Linked DNA regions of Homo sapiens. The protein of the gene in region 1 interacts with the protein of each later gene in a pairwise test. Each region holds a gene or a part of one and is shown in the gene's direction. Other genes may lie near its edges.

The links. Proteins that work in one complex are often made in the same cells at the same time.
Region 2: the proteins of MECP2 (region 1) and DEAF1 interact in binary tests that used the Homo sapiens proteins (3 or more experiments, as listed by UniProt).
Region 3: the proteins of MECP2 (region 1) and AP2B1 interact in binary tests that used the Homo sapiens proteins (3 or more experiments, as listed by UniProt).
Region 4: the proteins of MECP2 (region 1) and DDX20 interact in binary tests that used the Homo sapiens proteins (3 or more experiments, as listed by UniProt).

What each region holds. Positions count from the first base shown.
Region 1 is NC_000023.11:154,091,218-154,094,717, reverse strand, and holds part of MECP2 (methyl-CpG-binding protein 2), read left to right. Parts: exon of another isoform or gene 1-340; intron 341-1,168; exon of another isoform or gene 1,169-2,508; coding exon of another isoform or gene 2,509-2,534; intron 2,535-3,500. UniProt on the Homo sapiens protein: Chromosomal protein that binds to methylated DNA. It can bind specifically to a single methyl-CpG pair. It is not influenced by sequences flanking the methyl-CpGs.
Region 2 is NC_000011.10:688,723-692,222, reverse strand, and holds part of DEAF1 (deformed epidermal autoregulatory factor 1 homolog), read left to right. Parts: intron 1-624; coding exon 625-722; intron 723-3,500. UniProt on the Homo sapiens protein: Transcription factor that binds to sequence with multiple copies of 5'-TTC[CG]G-3' present in its own promoter and that of the HNRPA2B1 gene. Down-regulates transcription of these genes.
Region 3 is NC_000017.11:35,604,322-35,607,821, forward strand, and holds part of AP2B1 (AP-2 complex subunit beta), read left to right. Parts: intron 1-1,383; coding exon 1,384-1,519; intron 1,520-3,500. UniProt on the Homo sapiens protein: Component of the adaptor protein complex 2 (AP-2). Adaptor protein complexes function in protein transport via transport vesicles in different membrane traffic pathways.
Region 4 is NC_000001.11:111,754,615-111,758,700, forward strand, and holds the start of DDX20 (probable ATP-dependent RNA helicase DDX20), read left to right. Parts: upstream 1-1,286; 5' UTR 1,287-1,310; coding exon 1,311-1,611; intron 1,612-2,031; coding exon 2,032-2,126; intron 2,127-4,086.

The sequences.
Region 1 (3,500 bases):
GCTTGTTCTCAAGCTGCCCGAGTTATCTTGGAGGAGAGAATCACAGGAAATGTTTGATATTTCTAGTAACCAGTGTTTTCAGTGCGTGGGGTAAAGCACACTCCTAGACTGGCCAGTCCCAAAGAGTGTGGCAGGACACCTGCTTGTTTTCCCTGCCCTCTGCTATGGTGACATCCTTGCAGACCAGTCTTGCGTGGCTGGCAGACGCAATCTTTTTTTCTTGGGTAGAGCATTATCACCGCTGCGATGGAAGGACCTTGTCCTCGGTGCCTCCATACCAGCCCTTTCCAGTGAAACTACTGCTGTCCCGGCAAGCCCCTGTGCGTGTGCATCATTCCGGGTAGGACAAGATGTGAACAGGTCCCTCTTCTTTGGGCTTAAGTAGAAGTTGTGCTCTTCTGCTTTTACCTGTGTGCTCTTCTGCTTTTACCTGTTCTCTTCTGCCTTTCTCTTGCAAGAAACCTGTCGAAAGCTTGCTTTGCATGCCATTGCTTAAATACTTTGATGGTATGTATGGTATGTGGGATAACTGAGTGGGAGCCGGAATTGGGGGGTGGGCAGGGCATCCCCACCCCCACCCCCACATCAAAGGGGGAATGACCATTTCGTTAGAGAATAAAGCCTGAGTCTTATAACTTCTTCAAGCACATGTATGCTGGGTCTCCTGGCGTGTGAATGTGTTCCCGCTGTGCTGTGTGGCTGTTTTGCAGTTACTGTAGACACTGTAGTCTGGGCTCTCATTATTGCCTCTGAAGTTGACAGGACCAAGCCTTAGTAAGGATGCACTTGTCTTCCTAGCCCAAGAGCTAGGGGTGTTTTATATATATATTAACTTTCTTTTTTAGATTTCATAAACTGCTCTCATTTTCTCTTTTCTTTCTTTCTTTTTTTTTTTTTTTTTTTGAGACAGTCTCACTCTGTCACCCATGCTGGAGTGCAGTGGCACGATCTCAGCTCACTGCAACCTCTGCCTCCCGGGCTCAAGCAGTTCTCTGCCTCAGCCTCCCAAGTAGCTGGGATTACAGGCACCTGCCACCACGCCTGGCTAATTTTTGTATTTTTTTTTTTTTTTTTTTTTTTTTTTAGTCGAGACGGGGTTTCACCATCTTGGCCACGCTGGTCTTGAACTCCTGACCTCGTGATCCACCCGCTTCAGCCTCCCAAAGTGCAGGGATTACAGGCGTGAGCCACCGCACCCAGCCTCTGGCTCTTTTCTTTTTGACATGAAATCTTAAGTTAATTATCTTAAACTTTAAGAACTAGAAGGATTCTTAGTCCAGCACCATCAGTTTACAAACAAAAAAAACTTGTGTCCCTGAGAAGTTGTGACTTTTCCAGGGCCTCCTAGCCAGGATACCAGTTTGGTTTTTATTATATAGCTAGCCGAGTAATACTATTAACTTGACTTCTGGGATTTCAAAGTATTCTATGACTTGACTGTTTAAGGGAATTATGAGGCCTCACTGAACCTCAAAAGATAATTTTAGGTACCATCCTGGTAGCTGTAGAGCAGCAACAGACCAGTAAAAGACTTGGTTGGTGTTGCCCTTCTTCTGGGTTTGATTACATGAGTAATTGTGTGAATAGTCTCTAAGTTGTATGCTCTGAGCTTTCGTTTTTAGCTTATAAAAGTGCTACTCTTGGGCCAGCATAGTATCAGAAATTAGCTAATTCATATGGGGCAGTTTAGGCTTTAACTAGGAAATGATGGTTATCTTAATGACAAAAAAGGTACTGACAAAAGTCCTTTTTTGAACATGTGTTCAAAAGAAAAAGAGAAACTATCAAACTAATAACTGAGTTTGTTGAACATCGAGATTGACTGATCTGAGAGGCTTAAAACTGATTGCCCTGAAATAGACTTGCATGTTTTGGATGATGGCTTTGGGTCTCCCAGAGCACTTGGTTTCCCTTGGTGCTGATTTTTTCTCTCAGGATTAAAGCCCCTTTATGTGATGTTGTTACAGCAGCTTATTGCAACTTCATTCAGCTGCTTGAAAAAGAAGGGAGACTGCCTCTAGGTTCCATGTGTTCTTTCAGGGATGGTATTTTGATGTTGCGTATTCTCTTGAACATGTATTCTTCCCTGAGAATTTCTGTGTGCCGTGGTAGAAGAAATACTTGCCAGAAATCGCCACTCATGGTATGCTTTTGTAGTGTCGAAGTGTCCCCTAGAGGTGACAAGGCTTGTGATAGTGTTGATTCTAACAAGCATGAATCTTTCCTTTATTTTAGCACTGTGTGTTACGTGCCAGTAATTTGCAGCTTATCCTTTGTTTCTAGCTAGGTAAGCTGGGAAATAGCCTAGTACTTTGTCTATGTGTTTATCTTCAAAATGTCCCAAATAGCCCTGGGAAAAAGGTCGTGCAGCTCAATGGGGGCTTTCAACTTACAATTTTCTTTGTTTTAGGCTCCATAAAAATACAGACTCACCAGTTCCTGCTTTGATGTGACATGTGACTCCCCAGAATACACCTTGCTTCTGTAGACCAGCTCCAACAGGATTCCATGGTAGCTGGGATGTTAGGGCTCAGGTAAGTAACCTTCCTTTTTTTTTTTTTAGTATATGTCCTGGTTTGGCCATCTGTTTTTTTTTTTTTTAAAAAAAAAAAAAAAAGGAAAAGAGGAAAAAAATATACTACTCTTGGACAGTATAAAAGTACCCCAAAGACTAAAGACATAACTGTGCCAAACTGTGCCATATAATAAAAAAAAGTCACTTCCCTGAGCCCTGAAAGGTCAGTGTGTGTAGGGTTACTTGGTCGCCACAGCGTGATCTGGGGGCGGGCGTCAGATTAGAGCCGGAACTGGTGATCTGCAACTTCAGTTCACCTTGAAGCAGGTCAGCTGAGCTGAGAGCGCTTGCACTGAGCCCTTTTGCGCTGCTGCTGTTGCCTTAGCGGTCTTCAGCATGTGTTTGCTTTGGTTTGGGGTAAATGGCTTAGTGGTCAACATTAGTGAGCAGTGGTAATGCATTTTCAGATATGGGAACTGGTATGTGGTTGGTTCCCTAGAAGGACACCCTCCTGAAAGCTGTCTCAGAACACCGGGGGCCATGGCTAATGTCATGTGCTTGCTACACTCCTCCCATGGTAACTAAAGAGAGTACCCAGATATACATCTGGTTCTTGGGACTCTAGAGGAGGATGAGTACTTTGTAAAAACCTGGGGGCCCCAGTCATTCTAGGTCTGACACTCAGGTGCTGTATCAGCTGCAGTTTGAACTACTTGGCACCATTGTGTGGACTTTAGTTTTGTAAAAATGAATGGTTCCTTAATTTCTCAACCTTCAGGCTCAACATCTCAAGCTGTTTGTTGTTGTTGTTGTTGTTGTTGTTTTGTTTTGTCTTTTTGATTAGTGGTCACTCCGCATTTGATGTTTTGACATGTGGATTTCAGAACTTCTGTGTGGTAAAGCAGAATGTTCCAATTGAATTTTCCCATTTTTTTTCCCCTAAGCAAAAATGTGAGTTTTCACTTATGCGGCCATTGTGATTCCG
Region 2 (3,500 bases), on another chromosome or scaffold:
GAAGGGCCTGTCTGCATGCCAGGGGGCTGAGTTCCATGTTGTAGGGGGTGCGGTGGGGTGGCACCAAGGGACATAGGCAGGTTAGATGTACTTTTTAGGAGGAAGGGGTCAGAGACCAAGGGCAATGGCTGTGAGCATGGGGCCGAGGTCACCTGACGATGGTGGCCTGACCCCTGCGGTGGAGGAGAGGCAGGAATGGAGCTACAAGAGTGGGTCCAGGAGGTGTCCTCACCTGCGGGGAGGCCGAGAGCTCCTCGTAGGCATAGGGCACACCTGACCAGCAGAACCCACAGCTGTGCCGCAGAAGGAGATAGAAGCCCCGTGGTGGTTTGATAGAGCTGGGGCTGGCTGGGGTGGCGGGTTTGTTGTATGCATTTTTTACTGCACGTAAAAGGCTTTACTGGGGAAGAATAGATTTCCTCTCTTTTTCCTGGAAGAGCCGAATGACTTAGACAATGGAATAGAAATGTAGGTCGAGCGTGTTCATGGAAGTGTTAAGATCTTCCTGGTTACAAGGGCACACACCTGAGGGGGAGTCACTTTGTTTGAAGCACCTGAGCGAGGCTGTTCGCTTTGTCCATTCTGGCTTTTGTTGCTTGTTAAATGAGGCTCCTTCTGTTGCAGAGGTGACCACAGTGACAGTGGCCAACGTGGGGGCTGCTGCAGACAATGTCTTCACCACGTCTGTGGCGAACGCGGCATCCATCTCAGGACATGTTCTGGTAAGCTGCTCCGAGGGGCACAGCCCAGGGCGGGTGGTGCCACGCTGGGGGCCTCCGGCTTCCCCGAGGCTCTCCCGGGGTTCAGCCCGCTGTGTGAACGTCTGCTCTGTGAGCTGGGGAGGGACGCACTGGCTCGCTCTGCTCTCAGAGGCCTTCGGGCTGTGCTGGAGGTGGGAGAAATTACAGCTGAGGTAGAAGCTGCCTCGGAAGGCCAGGTGAAGAGCCACACCTGTCAGATGGGCTTGTGGCCTGCGTTGGGCAGGGACTCCCAGCAGGCTGCTGTCCGGCCACAGTTCAGCCTCTGCCCGAGGCCCGGCCCTGCCTGTGCTCCTTATCCTATAGCTGCAGGGCCAGCTGAAAGAAGCAAGGCGTTTCCCTCCCCCATATCCTGTTCTCGTAGCATTTATGGTGCAGTCTCCCACGCCTGACTGCTGTCTACTTAGAAAACTGCTGAAAGCCAGTTGCATTTCAAATAGTGTCTGTGCCACCTTCAGAGCCCTTTTGTGATCATGTTTTATCAGCTTATTTTATGTTTTATGTGTGGGGCCTTCGGCGATCTGGGGACATCTGGTCAACCAGGGCAGGCAACCTTGTTTCCAAGTGGCAGATGCCAGGGTGGGTCCAGTCTCCAGAAAGGGATTTTCCCTGGGACCATTGGCACCTGTTACTTGTAGTCTTTTCAGCCTTGGTCACATACCTGGGACATCATCTCCATATACCTGAAAGCAGAGTGGTTATTTGTTTGTTTTGTTTTTGAGACGGGGTCTTGCTCTGTCACCTAGACTGGAGTGCAGTGGTGCAATCTCGGCTCATTGCAACCTCCGCCTCCTGGGTTCAAGCCATTCTTGTGCCTCAGCCTCCTGAGTAGCTGGGATTACAGGCGTGTGCCACCATGCCAGGCTAATTTTTGTATTTTTAGTAGAGACAGGTCACCATGTTGTCCAGGCTGGCCTCAAACTCCTGACCTCAGGTGCCCGCCTTGACCTCCCAAAGTGCTGGGATTATAAGGATTATAGGTGTGAGCCACCACACCCGGCCTGAAAGCACAGTTATTGTTAGAATGGCAGCAAACAGAAAACTTGTGAAGGACTTCAGTAAAAACATAAGAAACTTGGAAACCCCCTCCCCTGCCCTCCCCTCCCCTGCCCTCCCCTCCCCTGCCCTCCCCTCCCCTGCCCTCCCCTGCCCTCTCCTCCCCTCCCCTCCCCTGCCCTCCCCTGCCCTCCCCTGCCCTGCCCTCCCCTCCCCTCCTCTCCCCTCCCCTCCCCTTCCTTTTTGACAGAGTCTTTCTCTGTTGCCCAAACTGGAGTGCAGTGGAGTGATCTCAACTCACTGCAACCTCCACCTCCTGGGTTCCCCATGTTGTCCAGGTAGTCTCAAACTCCTGACCTCAGGTAGCTACCATCTCGGCCTCCCAATGTGCTGGGATTACAGGCATGAGCCACCGCACCCAGCCCAGAAACTTGGCTTATTTCTGGTGGGTGTGAGAACACACACAAGCTGACCCATGGCCACGTGGCGATCTGTGTTTTCAGTCAGGCTGCTCCTTCCTGGCAGTGGGGTCTGGGCACCTCCTCATTTCCTAGGAGGGGCTGAAGCCCAAGGCACCTGTGGGTGCCTGGAACGTGCTGACGTCATGGAGCGGGGGTGTCCTGCAAGTGCCTGAGGCTGGTTTTCTCCCCTCCAGGCCAGGAAGACCAGAGACTGGTGTGTTCCTGTTTGGAAACTGACAACAAAGCGGGGCACGGTCTGAAATAACTGTGTGTTCCCTTCCTAAGAAAAATACTCTGTGACTCTTAAACAAACACAAGACATTCCTTTTCTCCAGTGAAGAGCTGCAGGTCTTTGGTGACTCAGGCACAGCAGTAGGACCCCCTGTGTGAGCCCAGGCGTCAGGCATGTGTGTTGGGGGTCCCTCCACTCCATGATAAACTTCTACTCAAGTGCTCTGATTTGACAGTGACATTTTCAGATGTAGGAAACAGTTGTCAGCTGGGCGCGGTGGCTCCTGCCTGTAATCCCAGCACTCTGGGAGGCCGAGATGGGCAGATCATGAGGTCAGAAGATGGAGACCATCCTGGCTAACACGGTGAAACCCCATCTCTACTAAAAAAAAAAATGCAAAAAATTAGCCTGGTGTGGTGGTGGGCGTGTGTAGTCCCAGCTACTTAGGAGGCTGAGGCAGGACAATAGCGTGAACCCGGGAGGCGGAGCTTGCAGTGAGCCGAGATGGCGCCACTGCACTCCAGCCTGGGTGACAGAACGAGTCTCCGTCTCAAAAAAAAAAAAAAAAAAAAAGAAAAAGAAAAAAAGAAACAGTTGTTTTCTCACTTTGCCTCGGTTGGTTTTGTATTCAGAATGAAAACCTTGGGGCACCCAAAACACGGGGTTCAGAGAGGCCCCTGGAAGTCTCTGGTCTGCCCCACCGTGGGGTGAACAGAGCCTGCAGGCCAGAGTTTGCCGGATGACTTGGCCAAGGTAGGGTTCAAGTTCCAGCAGTGGTGTGTGGGCATGGAGACTCTGGCTTCCTGTGGCGGGGTCTGTGCCGCCTGAAGGCTGATTTTGGAAGCAGGCAGCAGTTGCAGCAGCTTCAGCCAGTGTGGAAATGTGGTTTTGAGGCCCTGGTCTCCAGTTGCCATCTGTAAGGAGGTCTGGAGGGCGGTCCTGCACAAGGCCTTGTCTGTGGCGGCCAACTCGGTCTGTTGGAAACTCTGCATGAAGACGGTGACCTTGTGGGAGCGGCTCAGGTGGAAGGGAGGGTGTTTCTTGTTTGTGGAG
Region 3 (3,500 bases), on another chromosome or scaffold:
TGGTCTCACACTCCTAGGCTCAAGCAGTCCTCCCACCATGGCCTCGCAAAGTGCTTGGATTACAGACGTGAGCCACTGGGCCTGGCTTTTTTGTTTTTGTTTTTGTGTGTTTTTTTGAATGTGATAAAGGTAGTGGAAAAAAAAAAAGACACTTGCCTGTGCGTGGTGGCTCACATCTGTAATCCCAGAACTTTGGGAGGCCAAGGCAGGTGGATCACCTGAGGTCAGGAGTTCGGGACTAGCCTGGCTAACATGGTGAAACCCCATCTCTACTAAAAATATAAAAATTAGCCGGGAGTGGTGGCGCACGCCTGTAATCTCAGCTACTTAGGAGGCTGACACATTAGAATTGCTTGAACTGGGGAGGCAGTGGTTGCAGGAAGCAAAGATGGTGCCACTGAACTCCAGCCTGGGCGACAGAGTGAGACTCTGTCTCAAAAAGAAAAAAAAGGATTCTTAAGATACACATTAAAATATTATAGATGAAGCTGGGCACAGTGGCTTATGCATGTAATCCCAGCACTAGGATTAACATTTTTTCATAATAAAAAGCTTTTTCTAAAACTATAGAGACCTTGTTGAGAACAGCACTACAATTTTTTTCTTGTTTTTTTTGGATGGGGACAAGGTCTCACTCTGTCATCCAGGCTAGAGTGCAGTGACGTGATCATGGCTCACTGCAGTCTCGACCTCCTGCTTCAGCCTTCTGAGTAGCTAAGACTACAGGTGTGCACCACCACACCTAGCTTTTTAAAACAAATTTTTGTAGAGAGGATCTCGCCATGTTGTCCAGGCTGGCCTTGAACACCTGGTCTCAAGTGAATCCTTACACCCCAGCCTCCCAAAGTTCTGAGATTGCATACCTGAGCCACCATGTCTGGCCTACAGTTTCTTTTCTTTTCTTTTCTCTTTTCTTTTCTTTTTTTTTTTCCTTTTTTTTTTAGACACAGGAGTCTCGCTCTTGTTGCCCAGGCTGGAGTGCAATGGTGTGATCTCAGCTCACCGCAAACTCTGCCTCCCAGGTTCAAACGATTCTCCTGTCTCAGCCTCCTGAGTAGCTGGGATTACAGACATGCACCACCATGCCTGGCTAATTTTTTGTATTTTTAGTAGAGACGGGGTTTCTCCATGTTGGTCAGGCTAGTCTCAAACTCCCGACCTCAGGTGATCCGCCTGCCTTGGCCTCCCAGAGTGCTGGGATTATAGGCGTGAGCCACCGTGCCCAGCCAGTTTCTTTAGTAATTCATTTCTGTGACAGTTACCACTGTGGGGACATTTGTTCTTGCATCAAATCACTGTTAGTTAAGGCTATTCATGTTCTGTCCAACAGCTTGGCACCAACACCTGCTTACTTTCCTTTTCTCTTTTACCCTCTCTTCTCAGTTCTCTCTTTCCAGACGTAGTGAACTGTATGCAGACTGACAATCTGGAACTAAAGAAGCTTGTGTATCTCTACTTGATGAACTACGCCAAGAGTCAGCCAGACATGGCCATCATGGCTGTAAACAGCTTTGTGAAGGTAACTTTTCCCAAGGCCTCAATAACAGAGTTTGAATTGCAAATAAGTAACCTCTGTTCACAAGGAAGGAGTGTAGGGAAGTGTTGGCAATGACTAGGAATGTTCATGTTTTAAGCATTCTGTATACCAGTGTGTGTCATCCAGGGAAATTCAAACCATGTGCTGAGCTTTCTGTTAGTGGGGCTTGGTGCATCCTTGCCAGATGGGTAGAAGAAAACCTGGTGAAACCCCACTGTTTTACCTTCTGAGGCTGACAAAGGTGGGCATATCATTGTACTATCAGTAATTGGGGGCTTTACCTATTTTATCTTTGTAGAAATTATACTTATGAGTCAGCAGTAGTGGAGACTGCCGGAGTTTCTACTTTCATTTCATTTAATACGTCTTACATCATTTGATTAATTTTTTTTTTTTTTTGATACAGAGTCTCACTCTGTCACCGAGGCTGGAGTGCAGTGGCACGATCTTGGCTCACTGCAACCTCTGCCTCCCAGGTTCAAGTGATTCTCCTGCCTCAGTCTCCCAAGTAGCTGGGATTACAGGTGACCGTCACCATGCCCAGCTTATTTTTGTATTTTTAGTAGAGACAGGGTTTCACCATGTTGGTCAGGCTGATCTCGTGCTCCTAACTTCAAGTGATCCACCCACCTCAGCCTCACAAAGTGCTGGGGTTACGGACACAAGCCACCACTCCCGGCGTGATTAATTTTTTTTAATGGAAAATTTTAAACATATTCAAGAAAAAGGACTAGTATAATAAATTCCTAAATATCCGTCTTGCAGTTTTAACAGTTACCGACACATAACCACTCTTGTTTGTAATCCTCATACATATTTTCTGACCTCCAACCCCCTCTCCTGCTGGATAATTTTAAAGAAATCCTGAACATCATATATTAAATAGTTTTGTCTTTATATTTGTCAAGATAAGATCTTTTATTTAAACATAACCACAATATCATCATGTCTTTAAAAATGGACAAAATATTTTCTTATTATTGAATATCCAGTCAAATCTTTCCTATCATAGATTTAAAGAAAATAATAATGGGATCATTCCCATTAATTTTTTTTTTTTTTTGGTGACAGAATTTCACTCTTGTTGCCCGGGCTGGAGTGCAATGGCGCAATCTCAGCTCACCACAACCTCCGCCTCCCGGGCTCAAGTGATTCTCCTGCCTCATCCTCCCGAGTAGCTGGGATTACAGGCATGCACCACCACACCTGGCTAATTTTGTATATTTAGTAGAGATGGGGTTTCACCATATTGGCCAGGCTGGTCTCGAACTCCTGACCTCAGGTGATCCGCCCACCTTGGCCTCTCAAAGTGCTGGGATTACAGGCGTGAGCCACCATGTCCAGCCTAATATTTTTTTAATAGTTGTTTTTTCTCTGTTTGGAACTTAGTGTACATTTAAAAAAAACAGACAGCATTTCTAAAATTAGCTTCTATTTAAAATGTTTTGAAAAATAAGCAATATGCTTTCTTCTTTCTCATGAACTTTTTGTTCTTTTCCTGTGTTTAGCTACATTATAGAGTCAGAACGTAACAGTTTGTTCTCCATGACTGGTGGTTCATAGAGGGAATATATCATTGGGAAGAATTTAGTTTACATTTTTTGGAAGTTAGAGTTGTGCATAGATTTACATGGGCTTAAAGACATTTTTTTAGTGTAAGGCAGTTTAAAAGAGTGTTCTTTCTCCATATTCTATTTACTATATTTGGAAGCACTTGCTAGTAAAAGAGAATGTATGTTAGCCAAGAGCTCAGAGGGCCTTCTCTGCTGCTTAACTCCAGGTACTTATTTCAAGCCCAGACCAGCTCCTGTGCTCCCCTTTGTTTTCTTGGCTGCAGGCCACAGAAATCTAGCTCTCTTTTCTATTTGATGTTTAGGAACTCACTGTGGAGTAGGGCACGGTCTTTACAGCTCCTCTTTTTTTTTTTTTTTTTTTTCCTGTGCCGGAATACAAGCCCAAAAGC
Region 4 (4,086 bases), on another chromosome or scaffold:
AGCCTCCCAAGAAGCTGGAATCACAGGTGCGAGCCACCCCACACAACTAAATTTGGAATTATGAATATGGCTGAGGTCCAGAAATATTTAAATTTGGCATGATGACTAAGAGTTTGTTATAGGAGCTCAATCATTTGATAAATATTGAACATTTCCTATGTGTCAGATTGTTTTTCCCACTAGGGATGCAGAGGAGAACAAGACAGAATAGGTTCTTGTCCTCATAGAGTGTGGGAGACAGGCAGAAGACATATAATTTCAGGTAGGTATAAGTATCATAAAGAAAAAATAAAGCAAAACAAGAGAGTGCTGGGAAAGGCCAGGGAGCAGAGAGGATGACAGAGCTGTCTTAGGGTGTTCAAGACCTCTTTGAAAAGCTGATATTTGAGCAGAAGACCACAGCAAGGAAAAGTGGCAGAGACTGCTAGCTGCCTACGCATGAAATGATGGGGGAAGGAGCAATACAGAAGGCATGTAACATTTGAGAGTCTATTAGGCATCCCAAGGGAGGTGCTGCGGAGGCGGATGCATGGAGGCGGATGCGGAGGCGGATGCATGGAGGCGGATGCATGGAGGCAGATGGATGCACACGTCTAGAGTTTAAAAGGAGATCTGAGGCGGAGATACGAACTTGGGAGCTGTTAGTCCAGTTCCAGGTTCCAATTCAACGTACTTTTATCAGAGCTCACTGTGCGCCAGGGACTTGCTAGGAGATAAATGGGGTTTATCTCACCGGAGATAAATGTGGTTGCACAGCAGATGGACACACCAGCCAATGTGGTAAATAAACCCTTGGGTCCAGCTACGTTCTGCGCGCTCTCTGCCAGCACAGAGGAGCAGCGAGTCAGGGTACGGAGCGGGTAGCGTTGGGGAAGAGGTGGCCGCGAAGCGAGACAGGCCAGCGGAACGGAAAACGGAAGCACGAGACGGGGGCGTGACGCACCGGGCGCATCACAAAGAACGGCGAGAGGGCGGTGGCGCCGGGGGCACGGCTGGGCGGCTCCGCCCAGAAGAGGGCCGAGAGGCGGGGCGGTGCCCCCACCGCAGGCCCGCGGCGCCCTCTGCAGGCCACAGGCAGCGACTCACCAGTTGCCTCATCTTTCCTCTCCTCCCTCTTGGGGCTTTCCTCAGGCCACATTTTTTGTGTGTCTGGGCAGTCTCTCAGCCTCCGACTCCCGTCCCTTTCTTCCACTTCCAGGCCGGGCGTGTTAGTGTCTTCGCGGGAAAACTGCCAATAAAGTTTTTCTTCTTCTCGCTCCCAAGATCCCCGCCTCCCCTTAAGCACCGCGAGATCTGACGGCGCGGCTACCATGGCGGCGGCATTTGAAGCCTCGGGAGCCTTAGCAGCAGTGGCGACTGCTATGCCGGCTGAGCATGTGGCCGTGCAGGTCCCGGCCCCAGAGCCAACACCCGGGCCTGTGAGGATCCTGCGGACCGCTCAGGATCTCAGCAGCCCGCGGACCCGCACGGGGGATGTGCTGTTGGCGGAGCCGGCCGACTTCGAGTCACTGCTGCTTTCGCGGCCGGTGCTGGAGGGGCTGCGGGCGGCCGGCTTCGAGAGGCCCTCGCCGGTGCAGCTCAAGGCCATCCCGTTGGGGCGCTGCGGGCTCGGTGAGAGCGGGGGCCCGGGATAGGTCGGGGGGTGGGGTGGGAGAAGGGGGACCGACGGGCGGCGGCGGCCAGGCCCGCGCCGCAGCTCAGGAAGAGCCCTCGGTCGGCCCCCGGAGCAGGGCCCTGCCGGGGGCTAGGCGCTACGCTCAGTTAACTTATTTGTAAAACTAACGTGCACTATTGAACTTGAGGATAGTTAAGACCTTTTTTTAAGCACTGACAAATGGTTCTAAGTTTGAGAAGATAAACGGTAAACGTTCAGGGACTAGGCGTGTTCTCATACGTTTTTGAGAATCAACTAAAAATGAAGGTGCCAACTAGGGGAATCTCAGGAGACCCTTCTAGTTCTCTGATTCCATGTTAGCCCCTAAGTTGCTTCAGTGAGTACTGGCTAGTGATAATTGTTTTTTTCCTTCGCAGATTTAATTGTTCAAGCTAAATCTGGCACCGGGAAAACCTGTGTGTTCTCCACCATAGCTTTGGACTCTCTTGTTCTTGAAAACTTAAGTACCCAGGTGAGTTAGCTGAGAGGACCAGAGGAGGATGTGTTTTGTGGACTTTACCACAGGTCAGATGAAATACCAGTAGCTCCTCAGAGCTGGAAGTGAATTTGATGAATGATTGAGTTAAGTGGTGGTGGTGGCGAAATTTGGAATTTTCTATGCGTACCTTATTTAAATAGAATAAAGCTACCATATATGTCAATTTTGTCACTACTTGGTAATACAGACAGGGATTCTTCTTTTACTTACTGACTAGATTAATGTGAGACTTAACATTTGACTTGATTCATGGTAATGTAGTGCTCTGGCTATTGTTGGTAACTGCAGAGTTTGTTTTTTTTTTTTGAGACGGTGTCGCTTTGTCACCTAGGCTGGAGTGCAGTGGCGGATCATTGCTCACTGCAACCTTGAACTTCTGGGCTCCAGTGATCCTCCCACCCATCTTCCTAAGTATTTGGGACTACAGGTGTGTGCCACCACACCTGGCTAGTTCTTGTATTTTTTGTAGAGATGGGGTCTCCAGTGTTGCACAGACCAGCCTTGAACTCCTGGGTTCAAGCAATCCTCCCACCTTTGCCTCCCAAAGTACTGGGATTACAGGCATGAGCCACCACAGCCGGTATGCAGGTGGTTCTTAAAGCTCTGTAAATGTATCATATTGATCTCCCATCTTCCAGGTTGTCTTAGAGTGTTTCTAAGATTGCCTTACCCAAATTAGCAGGAAATTTGAGTTTGGGGATCATTTCTCCAACAAAGGTTTGTTGAGTCCGTATTACGTATAAACAGTGTGCCAGGCATTGGGGATTCAAAGATGAATTAGATGTGATTCTCATAGCCTTACTTGGTAGTTTAGTTGTTATGGCAGACTGTATTTCAAGTTCTCAGGCATTGGTATATCTGATGATGAATCTTCAACAGTGGTTTTTAACCCAGATATCCATGTTCATCACCTGGGAAGCTTTTTGAGTCCATCTTATGTCTACCAAATCCTAGGTGATGTTGCACATTGGAAATCCTCCTACTTCCCAAGAACCTGAGTTAGTCTAATTGTAGACTAAGATGTATTTGAGATTTTGGCTTCTGACAATTTGGCAGCAGATAAAATGCTGAAATCCTGGAAAAGTTTCATCAACTCATTTTTTTTTGAGACCGAGTCTCACTCTGTTGCCCAGGCTGGAGTCAGTGGCACAATCTTGGCTCACTGCAACCTCTGCCTCCCAGGTTCAAGTGATTCTCCTGCCTCAGCCTCCCGAGTAGCTGGGATTACAAGTGTGCACACCACACGCCCGGCTAATTTTTTTGTATTTTTAGTAGAGACGGTGTTTCGCCATGTCGGCCAGGCTGGTCTCAAACTCCTGACCTCAGGTAATCCACCTGCCTCAGCCTCCCAACATGCTGGGATCACAAGTGTGAGCCACCATGCCCGGCAAATTCATATTTTTAATTTCAGATCTTTGGATTATGAAAATTACATTATTCTCTGTGTGTGTATCAAAGTAATACATATTCATTTTTAGAAATAGGGAAAATTCAGAAAAATTAGGACGTACCAGAAAACAAAATCTGTAATCTTACTACCTAGAGAGAAACTGCTATTAACAGTTTTGGCATGTTTTCTCCTAGTCCTTTTTTTTTTTTTTTTTTTAAATCAATTTTTTTTTCTTGTAGTTAAGAGCACAAAGTTTTGTTTTCTCCTCCTCCAGTAGTTACATTGCAAAGTTTTTACCATGACTCTCAAGGTCTTTTGTGATCTAGTCCCTGGAGGTAGATCTCTGACCTCCTTTACTTTCCCCTGAATTCTGTCATGTGGGCCTTCTTTTTCTTCCTCAAATACACCAAGAACACTGCCATCTTATGGCCTTTCCATTTGCTGTTTCCTCTTGGTGAAAACGCTTCCCCAGGGGTCATATAGCCAGCTCTACTCTATGCCATTCACGTAGGTCTCTGCTCAAAGTACCTCCTTTGAGGAGGT